Regions from separate parts of the Homo sapiens genome. Here all the other regions are linked to region 5. Evidence: fine-mapped expression QTL. A gene starts in region 5. Each other region holds a variant in brackets. All regions are shown on one strand. Distances are between the middles of the regions.

The links.
Region 1: its variant is fine-mapped to the expression of LONP2 in nasal epithelium (TOPMed, PIP above 0.99).
Region 2: its variant is fine-mapped to the expression of LONP2 in monocytes after LPS (Fairfax 2014, PIP 0.91).
Region 3: its variant is fine-mapped to the expression of LONP2 in whole blood (INTERVAL, PIP 0.90).
Region 4: its variant is fine-mapped to the expression of LONP2 in whole blood (INTERVAL, PIP above 0.99).

The regions. Positions count from the first base shown.
Region 1 is chr16:48,183,819-48,188,818 of GRCh38, reverse strand. ABCC11 (ATP binding cassette subfamily C member 11) reads left to right here. Exons shown (of 30, transcript NM_001370497.1): 21 at 1,392-1,618; 22 at 1,729-1,866; 23 at 4,193-4,379. Among named protein-coding and RNA genes, the nearest start is that of ABCC12, 30 kb to the right of the region's middle. RefSeq lists a silencer at 87-381. The variant G/T (reference allele first, on the strand shown) is at 2,228.
Region 2 is chr16:48,190,282-48,195,281 of GRCh38, reverse strand. It overlaps ABCC11 (ATP binding cassette subfamily C member 11), which reads left to right. Exons shown (of 30, transcript NM_001370497.1): 19 at 1,300-1,403; 20 at 2,565-2,762. Among named protein-coding and RNA genes, the nearest start is that of ABCC12, 37 kb to the right of the region's middle. The variant G/A (reference allele first, on the strand shown) is at 2,714.
Region 3 is chr16:48,339,669-48,344,668 of GRCh38, reverse strand. All of the region lies in intron 12 of LONP2 (lon peptidase 2, peroxisomal), which reads right to left. Among named protein-coding and RNA genes, the nearest start is that of SIAH1, 43 kb to the left of the region's middle. The variant T/C (reference allele first, on the strand shown) is at 2,803.
Region 4 is chr16:48,358,144-48,363,143 of GRCh38, reverse strand. It overlaps SIAH1 (siah E3 ubiquitin protein ligase 1), which reads left to right. Exons shown (of 2, transcript NM_003031.4): 2 at 714-2,613. The coding sequence starts at 716. The coding sequence ends at 1,564. It also overlaps a transcript of LONP2 not described here. Among named protein-coding and RNA genes, the nearest start is that of SIAH1, 25 kb to the left of the region's middle. The variant G/A (reference allele first, on the strand shown) is at 2,429.
Region 5 is chr16:48,241,440-48,246,439 of GRCh38, reverse strand. It overlaps LONP2 (lon peptidase 2, peroxisomal), which reads right to left and starts at 2,140. Exons shown (of 15, transcript NM_031490.5): 1 at 1,819-2,140. The coding sequence starts at 2,051. All of the region lies in intron 1 of ABCC11 (ATP binding cassette subfamily C member 11), which reads left to right. RefSeq lists an enhancer at 2,115-2,204.

The DNA.
Region 1 (5,000 bases), 58 kb after region 5:
AAATGTAGGTGGTCATTTGGTCAGTGCCATGAACCTTTAAGAAATTGCCTTCTGTGAAGAGTGACTGTGCCAGGCTTGGGGAAGCCTCAGAAGGCCTAATTGGATCATGGTTTTGCCATTAACCACTTGCGTAATGAGTAAGTTACAGAGCCACTTCCTCTTCTGCAATCTTCAGTTTCCTCATCTGCAAAACAAGGACACCAAACTAAATGCTTTTGTTAGAGCCTACCTTGTGGTTTGACATGTCCTTTGATCTCCGAAAGGCCTCATGGCCACTGGCTGTTAGAGATCAACTTGCAGGTGCCACCCTCAAGAAGGGGGCAGTTAAGGCTAAATTTGATCCAAGGGTCCAAATCGTGTGCAACCCAGTAGGATTGCTGCTCCTAATCTTTGGCAGTCCTGAGTGAAAATGGTCCCATCTGTAGAAAATAATAAGAGCTGGTATTGGTAGAATGCCCTACTGGGGGTGATGGAGGGCAGGTAAACCCCAGACTGGGGCTTAGTCCATGAGGGTTCTTGGCTTTGCCCAGGAAAGAATTCAAGGGCAAGCCAGTGGTAGGGTAGAAGAAAACAGCTTTACTGAAGTGTCACTGTTGCAGTTCTGGCAGTGTTGCAGCTCTGTGACTGACCCTGCAGAGCAGGGCTACCCCGTAGGCAGTGTGCTGAGAGCTGCAGCTCAGGGCAGGTTTGCAGTCATATTTATACCTACTTTTAATTACATGTAGATTAAGGGACAGTTTATACAGAAGTTTCTAGGAAAAGGGTGGCAACTTCCAAGTCATCAAGTCATTGATGACCCAGAAAGAGGCGGTAACTCCTGGGTGTTGCCATGGGAATGGTAAACTGACACGACACACTGGTGGGCCTGTCTTATGGAAAGTGGCTTCCACCCCACCCCTGTTTTAGCTAGTCCTCAATTTGGTCTGGCGTTCAAACCCTGCCTCCAGAGTCAAGTCTCACCTCCTACCTCAGGGGCAGGCACTGCTCTGAGCATTTTTAATGTATTCTCTCTCTCTCTAATAGCTTTACAGGATATAATTCATATACCATACATTCAGCCTTTTAATTATACACTTCAGTGTTTAGTATATTTGAGGAGTTGTGTGATCCTCACTACAACTCTGTGAAGCATCGTTTTCATTCCCATTTCGCTAACGAGGACCTTGAGACTCAGAGGAACTCAGTACTTGCCCGAGGTCAGACAGCAGTAGGTGGAGGAGTCAGGTAGCCGTGGAGCCCATCCATGCTTTTAAATCATTGCTCTACATTGCCTGCCCTGGAGACCCCTGGGATCCGTGGCTCTTTAGAGTCAAGGGTAACAGGCATCTTCATCCAATCTTGAGCAGGGCCTGCAGCTTCTCTCATGGTCTGCGTTGATTTTGTCCCTGCAGGTTTTCCGCTGCCCCATGAGTTTCTTTGACACCATCCCAATAGGCCGGCTTTTGAACTGCTTCGCAGGGGACTTGGAACAGCTGGACCAGCTCTTGCCCATCTTTTCAGAGCAGTTCCTGGTCCTGTCCTTAATGGTGATCGCCGTCCTGTTGATTGTCAGTGTGCTGTCTCCATATATCCTGTTAATGGGAGCCATAATCATGGTTATTTGCTTCATTTATTATATGTGAGTAGGTTCTTTTTGCTTGTGACTTGGGGAGCAAGGCTGGGACCAACCCAGACTAGATGGTCCCAGAGGTGGACGGTCCAGGTCCCTTACCTCCACTGTCCATGCAGGATGTTCAAGAAGGCCATCGGTGTGTTCAAGAGACTGGAGAACTATAGCCGGTCTCCTTTATTCTCCCACATCCTCAATTCTCTGCAAGGCCTGAGCTCCATCCATGTCTATGGAAAAACTGAAGACTTCATCAGCCAGTGAGTCCTTCTGCTGCCATTTGAGAATGATGGAACCACAGGGGTGGTGGGGAGCAGGGAAAGAATGGAGCGTCTGGGAGTGGCATCATCTTCAAAAGCATCAGAGAGCACATTGTTCGATGGACGTATTTCTCTGAGCCTCCAGAACCTGCTGAACCATTCTTTCATTTATAAGAATGAAAAATGTAAATGATAGGAAAAATGTTTGTAAACTTTAAAGACCTTGTATATATTGTGTATATATATATGGACATATGTATACATACATTTAATGATAAGGTGCATTACTGTGCAAACACATCTTGCATTATGTTATTTCTTTCACTTCCAAACAAATATCTATCTTTAACAAAATAATGAG[G/T]AACAATAGCTTTCTAAATAATAGAACTTCCTTCACTACTCATGCCATAGATTTGCCCCCTAAATGTTGAAACAAACAAGCAAACAAGTCCTGTGATTGTTGTTGAGGTTTAATGGTGTAACACGAACTTATCTGTTTGTAGAGAATAATCAAGCACGGTCTTCACCTACAAGAAGTTCATAGTCTGGTGGAAAAAGGGAGAAACAGGCACATGTTTTTGTAATTATACGTGATTGAAGAAGGTAGATAGCATAAGAGAGGGGCAGATAAACTGCTTGGGAATTCAGAGGGGAAGGAGGTGGCCTGGGGGAATCAGATAAGGCTTTCGGGAGGAGGTGGCATCTGAGCTGGCCTTGAAGCCTGGGTAAGACTTGGGCACACATTTGGGAGACGGTATGTGCTCAGTTAGCTGGAATATTGGATTAATTGTGGCACCTGCTCTCTCAGTGGCATTATAGACCACTCAAGGTCTGTGCAGACTCTAGGACTGAGGGGATCCTGGAGCGGTGCATTCATTCAGCCCACACTGAGAACCCTGCCCCAAGGTATATACTAAGATAAGCAGATGAAGAGAGTCTGGAGGGATTGGAGCTGTTGTTGGGGAAGGTGTCAGAGAAAAGGACCCTGAGATGAAGTGTGGGTTGAGCTATGGAAATATGTGGGTAGGAGCTCTCCAGGCAGAGGGGACAGTAAATGCAAAGACCATGAGATGGGGGAAGTAGGTTTGAAGGATAGCAAGGTGGCTTGAGCACAGGGGCCACAGAGTGACCAGGGTCTGTTGTGTTTAATCTGGGAAGGCCTCAAGGTGGAGGTGACTCAATCAGTATAGAAAGGTAAGGTGGACAGAATTTGGAATGTCTTATGCAAAGGTTCAGAGGGTATGGACAGAGTGAGTCAGAAGGGCCACTCTGCTGGGGTGATAGCCCACTCAGATGGTAAGATGGTTTTAGTTGATGAGTAAATGAATATTTAATTTCAATAATCAAAGGTTTATTTGAATGTACTTTAGAAAAAATGCAACTAACATATCAAACCCATTATTTATATAATTTAAGGTTGTGATTAAAGTTTCTTTTAATATACATTCTCAAACAAAGCAAGTAAAATAATAATACTAATCAAATAACAGTACAGGTTGTGATTGACATGGAAAACTGTGATGGTGGTATGTGAAAATTGGAAATTGGTAGGTTTCTTGGTTGGAAGTGACAGAAAAAACTAATGCAAACTAGCTTAAAAATATGACTTAAATATGGCAAAATACTAACAATTGCTAAATTAGGTAGAGGGTATACAGATGTTCACGGAATAAACTTTTTAATTTCTTGGTACTTTAAAAAATTTTCATTAGAGGGTATACAGATGTTCATTAAATCAAGCTTTTAATCTCTTGGTACTTATAAAAATTTTCATAGCAAAAGGCTGGGGAGGAGGACTTGCTTAAAGTGAGGCTTAATCCAGAGACTCAGCTAATGTTCCCCGGGTGTCTCGGTTTTACTGCTCTGCCTTCCATGGTGTTATTTTACCTTTAAGCTCCCAGAGACCCTCTGGTGGCTCCAGGCTCCCCTCCTAGTAGCAGAATGGTAGTTTCAGATATCCCATCATCCCACTGAAAGGAATCACTCCCACACTCACTCACACGTCCTGGCATTTATTCACTCTCTGTGGCCAATTTGGGGTAACTCACCCATCCCTGAGTGAGTCACAGAGGTTAGGCGAGGAGCGCGTGCTAAGGATGGGCCTTAGCAGCAGAGCCTACTCCTCAATCTGGGTTAGGAGTCAGGTCAACTTCACCCAAATTCATGGCTGAGAAAGGGGTAGGGAGGAACTCCCCAAAGAAAAATCAGGCCCTGCTGCTGGGAGTGGGGAACTGGATGCTGGAGGAAGCAGCCGGTATCTACCCTGACCCGGGGAGACCCTAGGTCAGACAAACACATGGTTCTTAGTCTGTGCTTTCCTTCTCAGGTTTAAGAGGCTGACTGATGCGCAGAATAACTACCTGCTGTTGTTTCTATCTTCCACACGATGGATGGCATTGAGGCTGGAGATCATGACCAACCTTGTGACCTTGGCTGTTGCCCTGTTCGTGGCTTTTGGCATTTCCTCCACCCCCTACTCCTTTAAAGTCATGGCTGTCAACATCGTGCTGCAGGTGAGGGGGTGACTCTGTGTGGGCCCTCTCTGAGCTTTGCTCATCCTCTGCCTGTGGCTTCTGGGCAGACTCAGGGGGTCCTCAGGTGTTCAATGACACCTTAGGCTCTGGCCACGTGTGATCTTAGGAGCTATGTGCTTGGCCTTCTGAAATTGGTACTTTGCTCTGTTTCCTTGTGGTCAGCTCTGAATTGGGAAGTCTGTATTCAAAGGTATTTAATAGGATCACAGGACACTGGGAGTGAAGGGGAGCCCACAGATGACAGAGTCCAGTGTGCATATTATGCAGATGGGGAAACTGAGGCCCAGACAAGGGAAGGAGTTGTCCAAACAGATGCATGTTAGCAGAGCTGGAACGAGAACACTGATCTCTTGGCTTCCTGGCTGCTGTCTTTGTACCTAACCGTTCCTATCCTGATTGAGCTGTCAAACCTTTCTGAATCACCTGGAAAGGTTGTTTAAAAGGTGGGTTTCACAGCCCAGCCCCTAGAACAGGGCTTCTCAAACTTAAATGTGCCTAAGACTTGAAACAGACTTCTGGACCTTAGCCGGGGGGTTTGACTCACTCTGGGCATGGGTGGGGCTGCCAGGAGGACCATAGTCAAGGGCCACAGCCATAGAG
Region 2 (5,000 bases), 51 kb after region 5:
CTATGTTCCAGGCACTGTGCCAAGCTCTAGAGGGGAGGGGTATAAAGTCATCTAAGAACCAACCCTGGAATCTAGCTGGAGAATTAAGACTTGCTTCCATCAGATGGTAAGAGAGATCTCTGTGGCCAGGGAATCTCAAATCTCATCAAAGAAGAGATAGCCCTTGAAGGAAGGATAGAATTTGGGAAAAGACTGTGGGCACGGGACATGTGAGCATGAATAGATGAGAGGAGTGCTAGAGCAGGAGGCAGTGCCCCAAGGAGTGTACCCTGCCTTTTCCTGCCCTTAACTGCTTCAAATCCCAGCTCTGCCACTCACCAACTCTGCAAGTTTGGGCAAGGGAGTTCCCCTCTCAGATTAAGTTTCCTCATTTTATTAGCCTATTTGTGCTGCTGTAACAACATATATTAGACTGGGTAGTTTATAAAGAACAGAAATTTATTTCTCACTGTTCTGGAGACTGGGAAGTCCAAGATCAAGGTGCTGGCAAGTTTTTTGTCTGGTGAGGGCCCAGTATCTACTTCCAAGATGGCGCCTTGAACGCTGTGTCCTCCATCCCTGGAGGGGATAAATGTTGTATCCTTACATGGTGAAAGGGACAAAAAACCAGGAAGGCAGCTCTCTGAAGCCTCTTTTTTAAGGGCATTAATGCCACTCATGAGGGCTCCATCCTCATGGTCGTCACCTCTTAGAGGCCTCACTTTCTAATACCATCACCTTGGGAATTTGGTTTCAACATATGAATTTTGGAGAGACACATACATTCACACAGTAGCACTATTGAAAATGGGGATAGGAATTACTAATTCAGAAATAATGCATACATTTGGTACTATTCCTGGCATGTAGCACATAATAGTACGTACCACATAAAAGGTAACTGTTATTATTATTTATAAAACTGAACCTGCAGGACCTGCATAAGGTGAACTAACTTCTCTAGAACACTGCCCTGTGCCAGGCACTGGGCTGAGTGCTTCACACACATTATATCATATCATCTTCAGCATGGCTCTGAAGCTGGTAAGGTTATCACTATTTCATAGGTAAAGAAGTGGTATGTTGCTGACATTTGGTACCTTATCCAAGGTCACACGGTTTGGAAGTGGTGGAGCCAGGATTTGAACCCAGGGCTCTCTGACTTTGGAACCCAGCTCTTCCCATTCCTCCAAGGTGTCCACATTGGGTGGGGCTCAAGGGTTTCCAAGCACTCAAAGACAGAGATGGCCGAGCAGCTGAGTCAGCAGTTGCCTCGCACCTGTTTGTGGCACTTGTACATCACCACTGTCTCCCTCCCAGGTTACATGGTCTCTTGCATAATTTTCTTCTTCGTGGTGCTGATCGTCTTCTTAACGATCTTCAGCTTCTGGTGGCTGAGCTACTGGTTGGAGCAGGGCTCGGGGGTGAGTGCCATGAGGTGGATGGGCTGTGTTTCTATGGGCTTGAGTGAGGTGGGGTGACTTCTTGCTCCTTGAGACCACAAGAGCCAGAGCATGGCTTGGGACCCACATGACAAGCCCAGAGCTGGTGTTCCAGAGAGAACCGTGGGGAGCCAGGACTCTGGGGTTCCCCTGGCACAGGCCTCCTGACTTTGTAGAATGGGTGGTCGCCTGTGCAGTCTTACTGGAAAACCAAGAGATTTATATCCCCAGACAGTGCCCCAAGAATCTTTGCATTCCACTGCAGTAACTGTCTCCTTTAGCTCCAGGCTGGCCTCCATACTATGGTTTATTTAAAATATACTTCTGGTCTTGTGAGCTGGGAGCCACCACGGGCCACACTGTGTCAAGTTATTTCACTAATCTCCCCACCCACATTCAGAGGAAGGTTCCACTGTCTCCATTTTTCCAAGGGGACCCTGTGCCTAGAGAGGATGAAGAACCTGCCCTAGGACAGGACAGGGCCGGAACTTGAACTTGGTGCTTAGAATCGAAGCCATGCTTTTCCCACAGTACTCCATATGGTTAATTTCTGGATCGTGTACCAGGAGGTTTGGGTCAGGAGAGCAGAAGCCACTCTAAGTATTTAGAGCTTCCAAGGATTTAATATAGGGAATTAGAGGCTCAGTCAACCATTGGAGGGGAATTGGCCATCAGGGATCTCAGCTGAACTGAAGTGGGTGATTCCCAGGATGCCTTCCAGCCTCTGGAAAAACCCCACACCCCATGCTCCTGCCCACAGTTGCCACTGAGCATGCTGGCTTCTCCTCTTCCACCTTTCTGTTTCCCTGTGGGTGCCTCTCCTTGGCAGAATCTGACCTGAAACCATGCTGGGAGGGGTTCTGGGAAATCACGTTCCCAAGCTTCTCGCTGCATCACAGCAGAGCGTGCACAAGGGCCCAGCTGCTGCAGTGTCCACGGGGCAGACTCTGAGGGCCTGATGCAGGGCAGGGCAGTGGGAATGAAGGGCAAAAGAGAGTAGCCAAGCGCTGAGCAGGGAGGTTTGGGCAAACAGCTTCACCTTCTACCAGCCACAGATTCTCACGTGGCCCCAGGGAGAAGGCTTTCCCTGCCACTGAATTTCCCCCGGACACCTGCAGTCAGACCCCCTGTTCTTTCTTGAAGACCAATAGCAGCCGAGAGAGCAATGGAACCATGGCAGACCTGGGCAACATTGCAGACAATCCTCAACTGTCCTTCTACCAGCTGGTGTACGGGCTCAACGCCCTGCTCCTCATCTGTGTGGGGGTCTGCTCCTCAGGGATTTTCACCAA[G/A]GTCACGAGGAAGGCATCCACGGCCCTGCACAACAAGCTCTTCAACAAGGTATGGGCCTGGGTGCTGGGTGGGGCCGAAGGCTGAGCTCTGAACTTGCCCAGCTTCATTTTTATTTTTTTATTTTTTTATTTTTTAGAGCTCTGTAGCCCAGGCTGGAGTGCAGTGGCACAATCTCCACTCATGGCAACCTCCACCTTCCAGGCTGAAGTGATCCTCCTGCCTCAGCCTCCCAAGTAGCTGGGAGTACAGGCACATGCCACTAGATCTGACTAATTTTTGTATTTTTTGTAGAGACTGGGTTTCACCACGTTGCCCAAGGTGGTCTCAAACTCCTGGGTTCCAGTGATCCATCCACCTCGGCCCCCCAAAGTGCTGGGATTACAGGCATGAGCCACCACCCCCGGCCTATTTTTTTTTTATTAGTAGACCTTAATTATTTATTTATCTGTAGAGATGGGGTCTTGCTCTGTTTGCCCAGGCTAGTCTCAAAATCCTGGGCTAATGCAATCCTCCCACATTGGCCTCCTAAGTAGCTAGAATTACAGGTGTGAGCCACCATGCCCGGCCAACTTTATTTTATTATTATTTTTTATTATATTTTAAGTTTTAGGGTACATGTGCACATGCAGGTTAGTTACATATGTATACATGTGCCATGTTGGTGTGCTGCACCCAGTAACTCGTCATTTAACATTAGGTATATCTCCTAATGCTATCCCTCCCCCGTCCCCCAACCCCACAACAGGCCCCAGTGTGTGATGTTCCCCTTCCTGTGTCCTTGTGTTCTCATTGTTCATTTCCCACCTATGAGTGAGAACATGTGGTGTTTGGTTTTTTGTCCTTGCAATAATTTTCTGAGAATGATGGTTTCCAGCTTCAGGATTATAAATCATGCTGCTGTAAAGATAAATGCACATGTATGCACACGTATGTTTATTGTGGCACTATTCACAATAGCAAAGACTTGAAACCAAGCCAACTTTATTTTTTGAGCACTTTTCGTTTACAGAAAAATTGAGATGAAAGTACAGAGAGTTCTCATATACCTGCCTATCACTCAGGCTGGAGTGCAGTGGTGTGATCACAGCTTACTGCAGTCTCGACCTCCTGGGCTGAAGCAGTCCTCCCTACCTTAACCTCCGAGTAGCTGGGACCACAGGGGCACACCACCATGCCTGGCTAATTTTTGTATTTTTGTGGAGACAGGTCTTGCCATGTTGCGCAGGCTGGTCTTGAACTCCTGGGCTCAAGCCATCTGCCCATCTCAGCCTCCTAAAGTGCTGGGATTACAGTTGTGAGTCACTGCACCTGGCCCATTTCTCTTATTCTTAACATCTTGCATTAACGTGGGACATTTGTTACAATTGATGAGTCAATATTGGTACATTATTAATTACTATTATTAATGAATATCCATAGTTCACCTTATGGTGCATTCTTTGTGCTGTGCATTCTATGGGTTTTGAAAAATGTATAATGACATGTATCCATGGTACAGAATAGTTCCGCCGCCATAAACAAAACCCTGTGTCCCACCTATTCATCCCTCCCTCCCTACCCTCAAACTCCCAGCAACCACTGATCTTTTTTACTCTCTTCATAGCTTTGCCTTTTCTAAAATGTAGTTGCAGCTGGGTGAACCAGGCTGCTTGGTGAGAAGGGAGTGATGAAAGTGCGGTGGAGCTCTCCTGCTGGAAGTCTGGTTCTAAGAGCTCAGTGTCCCCTGATGGAGGGCCACAGTGACGCTGGCCTCCACTGGCTGAGCATGGTCATATACAGAGTTGCTTATGATTGCCCTGAGTTCTCTTTGAAGTGGATATTATCCTCATTTTACATATGAGGAAACTGAAATCTCACATATGTTAAAGTTGGAATATGTGTTTGGTTAGAATACTGAATTGTCAGCTGGGTGCAGTAGCTCACGCCTGGAATCCCAGCATTTTGGGAGGCCTGAGGTGAGTGGATTGCTTGAGCTCAGGAGTTCGAGACCAGCCTGGGCAACAAGGCAAAATCTTGTCTCTACCAAAGATATAAAAATTAGCCGGACATGGGGGCTTGTGCCTGTAGTCCCAGCTACTTGGGGGACTGAGGATCAAGGAGGATCGCTTGAGCCAGGGAGGTGGAGGTGGCAGTGAGCTGAGATCATGCCACTGCACTCCAGCCTGGGAGACAGTGAGACCCTATCTCATTTAAAAAAAAAAAAACCAAATTGCTTATGGTATCACACTGCTTCTTGGAAATGTCATTCCTCTCTCTCACTTACTAAGTGTTACTATGTGCCAGGTT
Region 3 (5,000 bases), 98 kb before region 5:
TGCTGGGACTGCAGGCATGAGCCACCATGCCCAGCCAAGATTCTTATTGATTACCATGTTGCTTCAAGAAGCCAAGCCAGTTTCCAATATTCCCCATTTGCTGGAGTCTTGGTACTTTGGGTAGAAGCAACTGGTAAATTGTTAATTGGAACAGTTGGTGGTGTAGATAACCACGTATGGCCAAACCTAGAGCATCTAGGCTCACAATTACTATCCTGACTTGATAACAAGTGTTCTGATATTAACCTGAAAATGGGAATAATGCCAAATCTGTGTAACTTAACATCTATATACACAGTGGGGAGAACTGAAGTTATTAAACCTGGAATCTCTGTGATCAAGGCTAACAGTAGTTATCTAAGAAGCAAAGGACCTACAATTCTTAGACTTGGAGTCATATTCTTTAAGGACGTGTTCTGAAACTATATCAAGCATCTGGTTTCCACGTATTTCTCCCTCAGAAATTATGAAGTACAAGTAAAAATGAAGGTACAGGGTAAGACACATGCTGCTTTCTTGCTCTTGAGTGGAGACAGTTTTCCAGCCATCTTAACCCCTTTACACAAAACAATTTGTGTTTTATAGCAAATAAGTGACTCAACATAATTTCAATATGATGTTTATCCACCAGTACTTTCCTTTCAGCTTCTAGTCCCATAAATGGTTTGTGAAGTCATCGGTTACATTAGCCAAGATAGGCCTAGACTTGAAGTCTAGAATGTTTTTCCCACTATATGCCAAAGTAGAATGTGGGTATCTCAGGGTCATTTTTGTTGTTCAATTTCCCACCTGTACAGTTGTTATGATTCACTTTCCTTATGTGTCTAATAAATCTTGTTCCATGAAATGATCAATTTCTTCTGAAATCTATCAATAAGGTAAATATGCAGATTAAGGAAGTATTTAAAATATTTAAGTAAAAATCTAAAACAGAATGTGTCTTCTAATGTATGATTGCATTCTTTTTTTTTTTAGACTGAGTTTCGCTCGTCACCCAGGCTGGAGTGCAATGGCACGATCTGGGCTCACTGCAACCTCCACCTCCTGGGTTCAAGCAATTCTCCTGCCTCAGCCTCCCAAGTAGCTGGGACTACAGGTGTGCGTCACCATGCCCGGCTAATTTTTGTATTTTTAGTAGAGACGGGGGTTTCACAATCTTGGCCAGGCTGGTCTCGAACTCCTGACCTCATGATCCACCTGCCTCAGCCTCCCAAAGTGCTGGGATTACAGGTGTGAGCTGCTGTGCCCGGCTGATTGCATTCTTAATACATCAATGCTATTAGTTTTTAAAGAACATTTGGAGTATCTAATTATTGCCAATTTCACACTACTCTTCCCTCTTAACTAAAAATAGTGATATTTGATTGAAATTGTAAGCATGCACAACTCTTTGTGACCCTTCCAATCCTAGATCAACACGTATAGACCCATCAGAGGGACCCATATTTGACATTCATTCAACAGTCCTTTACCAAGCATCCTGATGCAGGCTCTGTTACAGGCCATGGGGACATAAGCATGAATACCTCCTGGCACTGAGACTAAGGGCATCAGACACAGGAGCAGTTATACTCCAGTGTGGGGAGCTCTGAAGAGGCAAGCGTCCCTCCCTGTTTGGAGAGAAGACACAGGTGTCACAGGAGAGGCTGAGTCTTAAAATATGAGTGGGAGTTTGCCAGCAGATGTCAAGGAATGGAGATATGAAGAATTTTGTAGGCCTTCTTTCCAAGGACAAGCACGGTGCCACATGAGACACAGAACCTGAGCTGTCAAATTGCTGTGGTGTGCAGGTTGCTCTGTAGTGGTGTTCACACCATCAACTGGTTTCTTTTGTAGCTCATAGAGCACTTGAATGCTCCTGCCAGGGCTGTCACCACAGAAGCGATCCATCTGGCAACTTCTTTAAAGTCTTAGTACTGAGATCCCAAGTCTTGAATTCATGAATATTTGATTTTTCTAGTTGTAGATTTGTTTCAGTAGCATTCAGAAATGGGAAAAGCAGATTCTACATCCCTTGGAGAGGTGTTGGGGTCCACCACTGTCATCTCTTAAGCAGCATTAAGCAGCCCCAGCCTGGCCTGATGCTTGCATTGCTGAGAACCAGCTGCTCTCCAATCCTTCCAGTAGGGCCTTTTCTTGGCACAACGGATTCCTGTTGGGGCCTTGGACCAGACTGAACATGCAGCATCAGTGCTGCCTTCAACAGGTGGCACAGCAGGTTTATATGGAGCAACATGGAGAAGTAATTTACTACCATGATTCTTTGAGGCATTTAGTTGGTGTTTACACTCTTTCTCAGTTCTAGCAGCTAATTTTGTTTGCTTGAAAGGCAAGCATGATGACAGAATCTCCTGGAATTCGCTTCTGGATGCATTCTATTCAGGAGGCTTTAAAGTGTCTTCATGTCTATCCTCTTCTTCCTTTATTATTTTCTCAGGGCAGTAACCTTTAGACAAGGGCTTTTCATACACCATGGTCAGAAGCCAACACTGAGGCTTTTATATGAGGTGGGGGACTACCTCATGAAAACATGAGTCAGGAATAATCAAATGACAGAATCCTGTCCCCAACCAGGTATATTGGTCCTTTGTCCCTTTGGAGGTGCCTAATGTCCGTTCCTTTTGCTAAAACTAGCCTGATTTCCGGCAGTGACCTACTCTTTCCATGCAGGCTCCCTGAAGCAGAAAACTCAGGATTCTGTCTCCCAGTGACAGAGTGAAAGGGCACAGCCAGTGACTGAGGAGGTGCCTAGGCCCACCTACTCGCATGGCCCCTCCTCGGATTCGGGGCAGTTCTGAGTCT[T/C]GCCGTGATAGCACATGCAGTGTGAGCTATGCCTAGGCTTCCTGGGGACACCTGCACCCACTCCTGCTCCTCCCCACTTTTTTTGTAGTAACCTTTATTTTTATTTTTAAAACATGCACTTAATTGATATTGTTTCTGTAGGAAACTTTATGTATTTTGAAAAGGTGACCTATGATACTGTTCCTAAATCTGAAATCTAGGCTAAGTTCCTAGAACCCATTTGATATGGTTTGGATCTGTGTCTCCACCAAATCTCATGTTGAACTATAATCCTCAGTGCTGGAGGTGGGGCCTGGTGGGAGGTGACTGGATCACGGAGGGAAATTTCTCATGAATGGTTTAGCCCCATCCCCTTGGTACTGTCGTCCTCGCAATAGTGAGTGAGTTCTTGTGGGAGGTGGTTGTTTAAAAGCATGTGGCCACCTCCCCTCCTGCACTCTTGCTCCTGCTCTGGCCACATGACATGCCGGCTCCCCCTTCACTTTCTGCCAAGGCTGTAAGTTTCCTGAGGCCTCCCCAGAAGCTGATGCTGGACCTATTTATTTATTTATTTATTTATTTATTTTTGAGATGGAGTCTCACTCTGTGTCCCAAGCTGGAGTGCAGTGGCACGATCTCAGCTCATTGCAACCTCCGCCTCCTGGGTTCAAGTGATTCTTCTGCCTCGGCCTCTCGAGTAGCTGAGACTACAGGTGTGCGCCACCACGCCCAGCTAATTTTGTATTTTTAGTAGAGACAGGGTTTCACCATATTGGCCAGGCTGGTCTCGAAATCCTGACCTCATGATCCGCCTGCCCTTGGCCTCCCAAAGTGCTGGGATTACAGGTGTGAGCCAATGCACCTGGCCTAATGCTGGAGCTATGCTTCCTTTAGAACCTTCAGAACCGTGAGCCAATTAAACCTCTTTTCTTTATAAATTACCCAGTCTCAGGTGGTTCTTTGTTTTTTTTGAGACAGAGTTTTCACTCTGTCACTTAGGCTAGAGTGCAATGGTGTGATCACAGCTCACTGCAGCCTCAACCTTCTGGGCTCAGGTGGATCCCACCTCAGCCTTCCGGGTAATATTTTGTATTTTTTGTAGAGACCAGGTCTCACTTTGCTGCCCAGGTTGGTCTCGAACTCAAGCGATCCGCCCACCTTGGCCTCCCAAAGCGCTGGGATTTACAGGCGTGAGCCACTGTGCCTGGTTTCAGGTATTTCTTTATAGGAATGCAAGAATGAACTAATCCATCATTTTTCAATCTGTTTAGGGAATACAAAAGATATTATTAATTAATAAAAGTGTGCCTTCTTACCTTACTTCCCAACTGCCAGTTTGCTAGGTCAGTAATATTTTTTGACATTAATATATTTTTGTAGATTCATCTTCGATGAAAGTAAAAAAATAGTAAGTGGTGGTATAAGGTTATTAAATATGTACAAAATTTGGATTAGAAAAACAATGGGGATTTTTTGGTGATTGGGGGTAGGTCTCTGTTTTTAGGGAGTATGGTAGTTGCAGAAATTAGTATTTGTTTTTTCTTTTTTAGTATTACTGGGCAATGCAGTGGGTACACTGACTCACCAAATTTGAACTCTGTGATAACGTGCACATGCTTACCACCATTTATCAGAGGAAGACATCAAGCTCAAAGAGACTAAGTTTAAAATTTAGTCAGTAAGAGGCTGCCTTGCAACTTTCAGGCCTTATTCTTCTACCCTTCTGAGCCCCTGCTTATGGCAGCTGGCTTTACCATCCTGACTCTCTCTTCACTGTCTCTGACATTCAGGAAGATTCTAAACTCTGCTCCTTCCTTTCTGCCCCAGCCCCTGCTATCACCCTGGGTGTCTTCAGTGAAGGCATGATGCTCTCCCAGAACCTGGCTTCTCAGTTCTTTAAATGCCTCCTGAACTCAGCCACCCTCTTCCAGGTACTTATCACCAACAGAAACCATGCTACCTCTGAAACCCCTGACCATCATTTCTTATCCTTCTAGCTCGCCTGTACTCAAGCCATGAACTCCAGCACATTCCCATCATACAGCAGCTCTGCCCTAACTTCACTCCTCTCTTGTGCAGCTCACACACGTTAGCCCCATCATTATAATCTTTTCCTTATAAATAACTCAATATTCTTGTCCCTTTCTACATAATATCCTGCAAAAGGTATCCCTTCTCCCAACAAAAGCCATTTCCTCACTGGTGCTTTGGGTCCCACC
Region 4 (5,000 bases), 120 kb before region 5:
AGTTCTAGGACCCCCTTCTCCATACCAAAACCTGAGGATGCTCAAGTCCCTGATAGAAAATGGTGTCATATTTGTATGTGCATATTCTCTTGTATAATTTAAGTGATCTCTGGATTACTTAATACAATGTAAACAATATGTAAATAGTTGTTATAGACTGTATTTTAAAAATTTTGTATTCTTTATAAATTTTTCTGAATATTTTCAATCCATGGCTGGTGAAGTCCTCGGATGCAGACCGTGTGGATACAGAGTGCCGATTTTATACAGGAGTTCACCTGTAACTCCCTGTACCTATCAACAGCTGACTCCAAATTAGAAAGAAATAGAGTAAGGGAGCCTCAGGGAGAGTCCTAGCAAAACGGATTCGATTAAACTTCAGTTCCTTGTATAGTTTCTTTAGTTGTTTATGGTCCATTTTCTATTTTAGCATTTATTATTCTATGTAGTCTATCCAAAGACGATTAAGGGAGTTCCACATGTTTTCCGGAACATTTTGAAAAGAGAGCTTATCCAGTGTACAGATCCTAATAAAGTGCACATTCAGTGTAATTTTATTTTTTTAATATCTTTTTTAATCCTATTTTTCTTCCTCTTTTGCTCAGTAAATTTTGTATGAAACTTTAAAAGGACTTATGGCATGTAAACATTATTTATAAAGTAAGTCATGGTTATAATTATTTTTCTCCTGCCTCCTTATGTATTTATTTCAGAAATGAGCCGTCAGACTGCTACAGCATTACCTACCGGTACCTCGAAGTGTCCACCATCCCAGAGGGTGCCTGCCCTGACTGGCACAACTGCATCCAACAATGACTTGGCGAGTCTTTTTGAGTGTCCAGTCTGCTTTGACTATGTGTTACCGCCCATTCTTCAATGTCAGAGTGGCCATCTTGTTTGTAGCAACTGTCGCCCAAAGCTCACATGTTGTCCAACTTGCCGGGGCCCTTTGGGATCCATTCGCAACTTGGCTATGGAGAAAGTGGCTAATTCAGTACTTTTCCCCTGTAAATATGCGTCTTCTGGATGTGAAATAACTCTGCCACACACAGAAAAAGCAGACCATGAAGAGCTCTGTGAGTTTAGGCCTTATTCCTGTCCGTGCCCTGGTGCTTCCTGTAAATGGCAAGGCTCTCTGGATGCTGTAATGCCCCATCTGATGCATCAGCATAAGTCCATTACAACCCTACAGGGAGAGGATATAGTTTTTCTTGCTACAGACATTAATCTTCCTGGTGCTGTTGACTGGGTGATGATGCAGTCCTGTTTTGGCTTTCACTTCATGTTAGTCTTAGAGAAACAGGAAAAATACGATGGTCACCAGCAGTTCTTCGCAATCGTACAGCTGATAGGAACACGCAAGCAAGCTGAAAATTTTGCTTACCGACTTGAGCTAAATGGTCATAGGCGACGATTGACTTGGGAAGCGACTCCTCGATCTATTCATGAAGGAATTGCAACAGCCATTATGAATAGCGACTGTCTAGTCTTTGACACCAGCATTGCACAGCTTTTTGCAGAAAATGGCAATTTAGGCATCAATGTAACTATTTCCATGTGTTGAAATGGCAATCAAACATTTTCTGGCCAGTGTTTAAAACTTCAGTTTCACAGAAAATAAGGCACCCATCTGTCTGCCAACCTAAAACTCTTTCGGTAGGTGGAAGCTAGACACATGAAGGTAAATAAAAAGAAAGGCTGTTAAATACAGGAAACAGTTGCATGTAGTAACACTAATATATTTAAAAATAAGTCAACAGTAAACCACTGAAAAAATATATGTATATACACCCAAGATGGGCATCTTTTGTATTAAGAAAGGAAGCATTGTAAAATAATTCTGAGTTTTGTGTTTGTTGTAGATTGATTGTATTGTTGAAAAAGTTTGTTTTTGCGTGGGAGTGTGTGCCTGCGTGGGTGTGTGCGTGTTTGGGTTTTTTTCCTTTAACTGACAAGCCATCTTGAGTGGTCATGGGCCACTGCTTTTCCCTTTGTGAGTCAATACATAGTGCTGCTGTGTGCTTTTTTTGTGTGTATTTGCTAATTTTTATTAATTTTAGTTTTTCATTAAATAAATTTGACTTTTCTGTAATTCAGGTTTTTCCTTTTTTTGTACCATTTTAAAGTTAGTATCTTTTGATATGCATATTTGTTTATGGTAAAAAATTTATAACGTGTTCAATATTTTCTTTTCCCCCATTAATCAGTTCATTAGAAATATTTTAAAATCAGCTATTTTGTGAAGCCATGAGTTCCAGAAAGTAAAGGTGACATCGGAAAAATAATCAAAAGCTATTTAAAGCATCTATAAGGTGCTCTCTTTCTGTCTTCTACAGATGAGTCACACCTTTGAGCTTAATCTTTGAAAGGTTAGAGAATAAATTGATTTTTATAAATACTGCAAATCAGGCTTTTGTTTCCTTTTTCA[G/A]ATATCTTGGACAAATCACATATTTTAAAATTTGTTCTTGTATTTATTGGTTTTGCAGAAGAAGGCATCGTCATGCACAGTATTTGTAATTAAAAGCAAATCATTTGTTTAAAAAGGCAGTTTGCAAAAAATGTTTTTGGTCTTTTATAATTCTCATTAAAAGAATATCTGGCAAATTAAAAAAATCTTACTGTGTCTGCTTTAGCTCTAAGTTTGATAAAATCCGAAGTTATTTTCCTGTTTCATTCCATACTTTAATTATATAGCAGAAAGCTGTGTGTTGTCATTTTTAAGTGCGGTAGACTTAACTCTAATCACAGCAAATAACTGGGTATATGGCCTCTGGATTAGTCTTTCCCATGCCCTGCCCCTCTTGCCCACATTTTGATTCTTACAACTGTCAGGAGAATGACTAAAATGCTGACCACTTTTCACCTCTTTAAAAAAGCACAATGATATAATAAATTCACTATTTCATAGCCTAGTGGCTAAGAGCCTTGGTTCTGCAACCAGACTTCCAGGCACCTAAGTGCCAGTCTCGGCTCTACCCCACTAACCAGCTGTGTGACCTTGGGCCCCAGTTTCCTAATGTGTAAAGTGGGGTTAAATTATGGTAGATACTTAAAACCTTTAAATGGGGTACAGGTATGTTACCTGAAACAGTGCTTTGCTCATATCAGCATCCAGCGAATGTTAGCTACCATTATGCCTTCAGTACCATGTAGTTAACTGTTGCTAATTACTTTGAGGCACATGGCAAGATTCTGAAATTGCCTTCTGAATGGTGAAAGAGAATTTTGTGTGGTTTTTATGGGTACTGTAAGCCTAGAAAGTCAATGAAAATTTGGGCTTCACCCTTATCCCACCACTGATTCTGGATAATTTTGGATAAGAGTTTATTTCTGTTATCCATTTTCAGAAAAGATGATTGTGTAGTCTCTTCCTTACATAAATATCTTTTGAACTGGTTATAATGTGCTTGTGGAGCTTTTTTTTTTTGAGACGGAGTTTTACTCTTGTCACCCAGGCTGGAGTGCAGTGGCGTGATCTCGGCTCACTGCAACCTCGGCCTCCTGGGTTTAAGCGATTCTCCTTCCTCAGCCTCCAGAGTAGCTGGGACTACAGGCACGTGCCACCATGCCCGGCCAATTTTTATATTTTTAGTAGAGACGGGGTTTCACCATGTTGGCCAAGATGTTCTCAATCTCCTGACCTTGTGATCCGCCTGCCTCCCAAGTGCTGGGATTATAGGCGTGAGCCACCGCGCCCGGCCTTGCGTAGCCATTTTTATGGTGAAAGAGAACAACAGTTCAACCACAGATTTATATTCAAGTCTGTTCATTAGCATGTGTGCTTGGAAAAAGTGACTTTTATTCCATATTTAATGTTGTATGGTGAAAGGGTTACATTATAATATGTAAAAGGGCTCCCAATATCTTTCAAAATAAACGTGGCTGGACGCTGTGGCTCATACCTGTAATCCCAGCACTTTGAGAGGCCAAGGTGGGCGGATCACTTAAGGTCAGGAGTTCGAGACCAACATGGTGAAACCCTGTCTCTACTAAAAGTACAAAAAAGCCAGGCATGATGGCACACCCTATTAGGGAAGCTGAGGCAGAAGAATCCCTTGAACCCAGGAAGCGGAGGTTGCAGTGAGCCAAGATCGTATCACTGCACTCCAGCCTGGGTGACGGACTGAGACTCTTGGCTCAAAAAACAAAACATATTGGGTATATTCGTGGAGGTATATCATTTTGTAGTTTTACTATTAAGTGTTTTGATTATAAAGTTCATGTAGACTTTGGAAATTATAAAACTGCACATACAATTGAGATGTGTAATCTTAACTGTCCACTCAGGTGACATTTTTATTTTTCCAGTTTTTTTTATGTGTATGTACATATGCTCATCCTCTGTCACCCAGGCTGGAGTATAATGGTGCAATCGGTTCACTGCAGCCTCAAACTCCTGGGCTCAAGTGATCCTCCCATCTCATCCTCCTGCGTAGCTGAGAGTACAGGTGTATGGCATCATGCTTGGCTAATTAAATTTTTTTGTGGAGATGGGGTCTCGCTATGTTGCCCAGGCTGGTCTCAAACCCCTTGGGCTCAAGTGATCCTCCTGCCTTGGCCTCCTGAAGTGCTGGGATTACAGGCATGAGCAGCTGGCTCCAGCCACATGTTTATTTTCAAAGATATTGGGAGCCCTTTTATGTATTACCTTGTAGGCCTTTCATCACACAACATGGTCATCTGAGTGTTTCACCACTTTAATAATCTTGGAAAAATAATTTTTGTTAGTTTGAGGATTCACTGTAATTTTACCTAGGTTCTTGCTGGATATAAGTAAACCATGAACATACCTGTATGTTTTCTGTTTATATTCTTGGGATTATTTTTTACACACTTCATCATTGCTTTCTGGAGAGGTTCCAGAGGACACCAGTAACTGTGTGAAGTTTTCCATTTTCATTTTCACCTCATGTTTTGCTAATTTAAGCAAATTAAGGTAGTACATTTTGTGTTTAACAGTTAATAAGCTTGACATTTTAGTATTAACTATTTGCATTTGG
Region 5 (5,000 bases):
AAAATGAAGTCTAATAATGACCACTCTTGCCTAGACAGGGAACTAAGTGTGCCTGGGCACAGAAGGCAAAATAATTTGGGAAAAGTAAGCAGAAGGAGCAGAGTCGTATGTTGGGAAACTAGAATCCAATACAATTTATCAAAGAGTACTGAAACTTGGAATGTGACCAATTCCACTCAGGCAATAACCAAAGCAGGTCAGATGGGAGCCAAAATATTTTCCATGCTTGAGAAAATCAAGGCTTTTACAATATAAATGAATACTGGGCTGCTGTGGAAGGTTTGTTGGTCTTTGTTGCTTTGTTTTGCTTTCTTTTAACGGGGGTGGGGGGAGGTACCAGTCTCCTTTGAGAATCTGAAGAAAGCAAAGGATTCTCCTAAAAAAATGTACATAGTCACAAGATTTTGAGGAAAAATAAGACATGTCCAACCCTCCGGAAATCCATTCAGAGTCAGGAACCCCTAATTTAAAAATAAGGGATAACTGCCAGGAAAGGAGAAGCTCTAAACTGAAAACACAACACCTCCAGTAGAGTTAGGAATAGGAGGCGGGTGCTTGGCAGGTGAGTTTGAAGATACTTGTTGAGAGCATACGATATACCAGCATTGTCCAATAAAAATATAATGTGGACCACATATAAAATTTTAGTGGCCACATTATAAAGTAAAAACAGCAGAAATCTTAACATTTTATTAACCCCAAGTACTCAAAATATTACCTTTCCAACATTTAATCCATATAAAATGTATTAATCAAAAAGTTTTTTCAAAATCTGGCGTGTATTGTACACTTACAGCACATTTAGGGTGACCAACCTCCTGGTTTCCCTGGGACGGAGGGGCTAAAACATAGGACTTTCAATGCTAAAACAGACAATCGCAGCAAACCAGGACAACTGGCAATTCTATCATCTCAATTTGACGAGCCACATGCACTACACAGTACTGGACAGCAAAGTCATCCATCATGCATGGTGCAAAGTGGAATATACACATTATTCAATTTATTCTTCATAACTTGCCTAAGAGATGGATGCTGTCAGTTTCCAAATTGCAGAATAAAAGAAATAGAGGTTAAAGCTCTCACCCAAAGTCACACCAATAGGGCGAGGGTACTGGGCAATATAGTAGTAAGCCTGGGGCCTAAGAAATGTTATGAGTGAAGGAGCAGAGGTGAGAAGCTAGGAAAGTTCCAGAAAGGGGGACCAGCGAAAATGTGAGCAGTAAAGGCCCTTTACAAAGGGAAACAGAAGGATTAGGGGGAGAAGGAGAAGGGTGGCAGGGAGTATAGAAGAAAGGCACCCACAAATAGTGCAGTTTAGGAATGAAACAGGAAAAGTTAAAACTCACGGAGCAGAGAATGCCTCAGCGGACAAAAATGATGGGTGACAGAAAAGGGGAGGCGGATAGGAGTAAAGGGCAGTGGGGAGAAAGGTGAAAAGCGAAGGCAAGTGAAGGCAGAGATCACCGGGGAGAAAGAAAGGGCCTGGAAAGTTAAAAGCACTGGCCTAGGAGGCTGAAGACCGAGGGCGAGGAATTGCGGAGAGGGGGAAGAGGATTCAAATTAAATTATCCAGAACGGTAGGGAACTGCGTAGTTTCACCAGGTGTCAGGCACTACTTCATGAACGATCTCATTCATGGTCATGGGGCAGGTATCTGACATCCCCATTTTGCAAGTGATAGCACCAGAGAGGCGGAACCGAGCCGCGAAGGCCGCCCCGAACTGAGCCTCGCGCTCAAGGCAGGCCGTGGCCTGGGCCCAGGTCCCCGGAGGAGGCCGCGCCGCCCGCCGCCGCCGCGGGGGCAGCCAGGCCTACCTGTGCAGCGGCGGCAGGTCCTGCGCGTCGCTGGCGGGGTCAGGCGTGTTGGGGATGACGCCCAGGATGGTGCTTTGCAGCGACGTGCCCTTCAGAAGGCGGCTCCGCACCAGCTGCAGGTTGCGGGCCGAGTCCACGCTGGTGCGCATGGTGGAGCCGGGCAGCAGGACGCCCTCGTGGGTGAGCAGCAGCGGGAGGCGACTGGGGATCTGGATGGGGCTCACTGATGACATGCTGGCAGCCTTTCGCACTGGGGGCTGTCAAAAAGAGCCAGACAGACAGCTGCCCCCGGCCTGCCCCGCAGTCACCAAACCTCAGACCCGCCTCCACGCCTCCGCTTCCGGCTACGCGCTACGGTCCGTCCCCGGGCCCAAAAGCCATGGCTTCGCGCTGCTCTCTAGGAGAGCCTCCCGGTAAGACTTGAGCGTCCTACCTATGCGGAAAGACGTGCACTCAAGCGTGCAGCGACCTTCGCCTCACTTACAGAGTATATTTGGAAGGATGATCTTATTTGAATTGTATATACTTGAAGTGTTTTTAACGTTTTCTTCGATTTTTTACATATACTTGAAGTGTTTTTAACTTTTGATTCGAACTAATTATTTATTTATTTATTTATTTATTTATTCTGAGACAGATTCTCGCTCTGTCGCGGAGGCTGGAGTGCAATGGCGCGATACCCACGGCTTGCAGCCTCTGCCTCCCGGGTTCAAGCGATTCTCCTGCCTCAGCCTCCCGAGTAGCTGGGATTACAGATGCCCGCCACCACACCCAGCTAATTGTTGTATTTTTAGTAGGGAGGGGATTTCACCATGTTGGCCAGGCTGGTCTTTAACTCCTGACCTCAAGCGATCCGTCCACCTCGGCCTCCCAAAGTGCTGGGATTACAGGCGTGAGCCAACGTGCCCGGCCCGAATTGATTTTAGATGTACAAAACTACAGCAGAGTTCCTATATACCTTTCACCCAGTTTCGTCTGTTATCATCTTACATAATCATAGTTCAATGATCAAAACCAGGAAATTAACATTATTATCGTTTAACCTATAGGCCTTACCCAAATTTTGCCAGTTTTCCCACTAATGTCCTTCATTGGATCTGGTCCAGGATCCAATATCCAGGATCCTGTTGTGAAATCTCCTAGGTGTTTTGTTATGAAATCTCCTAGGTGTTCTCTAATCTGTGGCAAGTCCTCAATTTTTTTTTTTTTTTTTTTTTTTTGAGACGGAGTCTCGCTCTGTCACCCAGGCTGGAGTGTAGTGGCGAGATCTCGGCTCACTGCAAGCTCCGCCTCCCGGGTTCATGCCATTCTCCTGCTTCAGCCTCCCGAGTAGCTGGGGACTACAGGCACCCGCAACCACGCCCGGCTAATTTTTTGTATTTTTAGTAGAGACGGGGTTTCGCCATGTTAGCCAGGATGGTCTCAATCTCCTGACCTCGTGATCTGCCCGCCTTGGCCTCCCAAAAGTGCTGGGATTACAGGCCTGAGCCACTGCGCCCGTCCAATTTTTTTTTTTTTTACAACCTTGATACTTTTATTTTTTTTCTGTTTTTAATTTAATTTTATTTTTTATTATAGTTTAAGTTCTAGGGTACATGTGCACAACGTACAGGTTTGTTACATATGTATACATGTGCCATGTTGGTTTGCTGCACTCACTAACTCGTCATTTACATTAGGTATATCTCCTAATGGTATCCCTTCCCCCCCACTCCCCACCACCCAACGACAGGCCCCTGAGTGTGATGTTCCCCACCCTGTGTCCAAGTGTTCTCATTGTTCAGTTGCCACCTATGAGTGAGAACTTGCAGTGTTTTGTTTTCGGTCTTTGCGATAGTTTGCTCAGAATGATGGTTTCCAGCATCATCCATGTCCCTACAAAGGACATGAACTCATCCTTTTTTATGGCTGCATAGTATTCCATGGTGTATATGTGCCACATTTTCTTAATCCAGTCTATCATTGATGGACATTTGGGTTGGTTCCAAGTCTTTGCTATTGCGAATAGTGCCGCAGTAAGCATACGTGTGTGTGTGTCTTTATAGCAGCATGATTTATAATCCTTTGGGTATATACCCAGCAATGGGATGGCTGGGTCAAATGGTATTTCTAGTTCCAGATCCTTGAGGAATTGCCACACTGTCTTCCACAATGGTTGAACTAGTTTACAGTCCCACCAACAGTGTAAAAGTGTTCCTATTTCTCCACATCCTCTCCAGCACCTGTTGTTTCCTGACTTTTTAATGATTGCCATTCTAACTGGTGTGAGATGGTATCTCATTGTGGTTTTGATTTGCATTTCTCTGATGGCCACTGATGATGAGCATTTTTTCATGTGTCTGTTGGCTGCATAAATGTCTTCTTTTGAGAAGTGTCTGTTCATATCCTTTGCCCACTTTTAGATGGGGTTGTTTGATTTTTTCTTGTAAACTTGTTTAAGTTCTTTGTAGATTCTGGATATTAGCCCTTTGTCAGATGGGTAGATTGTAAAAATTTTCTTCCATTCTGTAGGTTGCCTGTTCACTCTGATGGTGGTTTATTTTGCTGTGCAGAAGCTCTTTAGTTTAATTAGATCCCATTTGTCAATTTTGGCTTTTGTTGCCATTGCTTTTGGTGTTTTAGTCATGAAGTCCTTGCCCATGCTTATGTCCTGAATGATATTGCCTAGGTTTTCTTCTAGGAATTTTATGGTTTTAGGTCTAACATTTAAGTCTTTAATCCATCTTGAATTAATTTTTGTATAAGGTATAAGGAAGGGATCCAGTTTCAGCTTTCTACATATGGCTAGCCAGTTTTCCCAGCACCATTTATTAAATAGGGAATCCTTTCCCCATTTCTTGTTTTTGTCAGGTTTGTCAGAGATCAGATGGTTGTAGATGTGTGGTATTATTTCTGAGGGCTCTGTTCTGTTCCATTGGTCTATATCTCTGTTTTGGTACCAGTACCATGCTGTTTTGGTTACCATAGCCTTGTAGTATAGTTTGAAGTCAGGTAGCATGTTGCCTCCAGCTTTGTTCTTTTGGCTTACGATTGTCTTGGCAATGCCGGCTCTTTTTTGGTTCTATATGAGCTTTAAAGTAGTTTTTTCCAATTCTGTGAAGAAAGTCATTGGTAGCTTGATGGGGATGGCATTGAATCTATAAATTACCTTGGGCAGTACAGCCATTTTCACGATATTGATT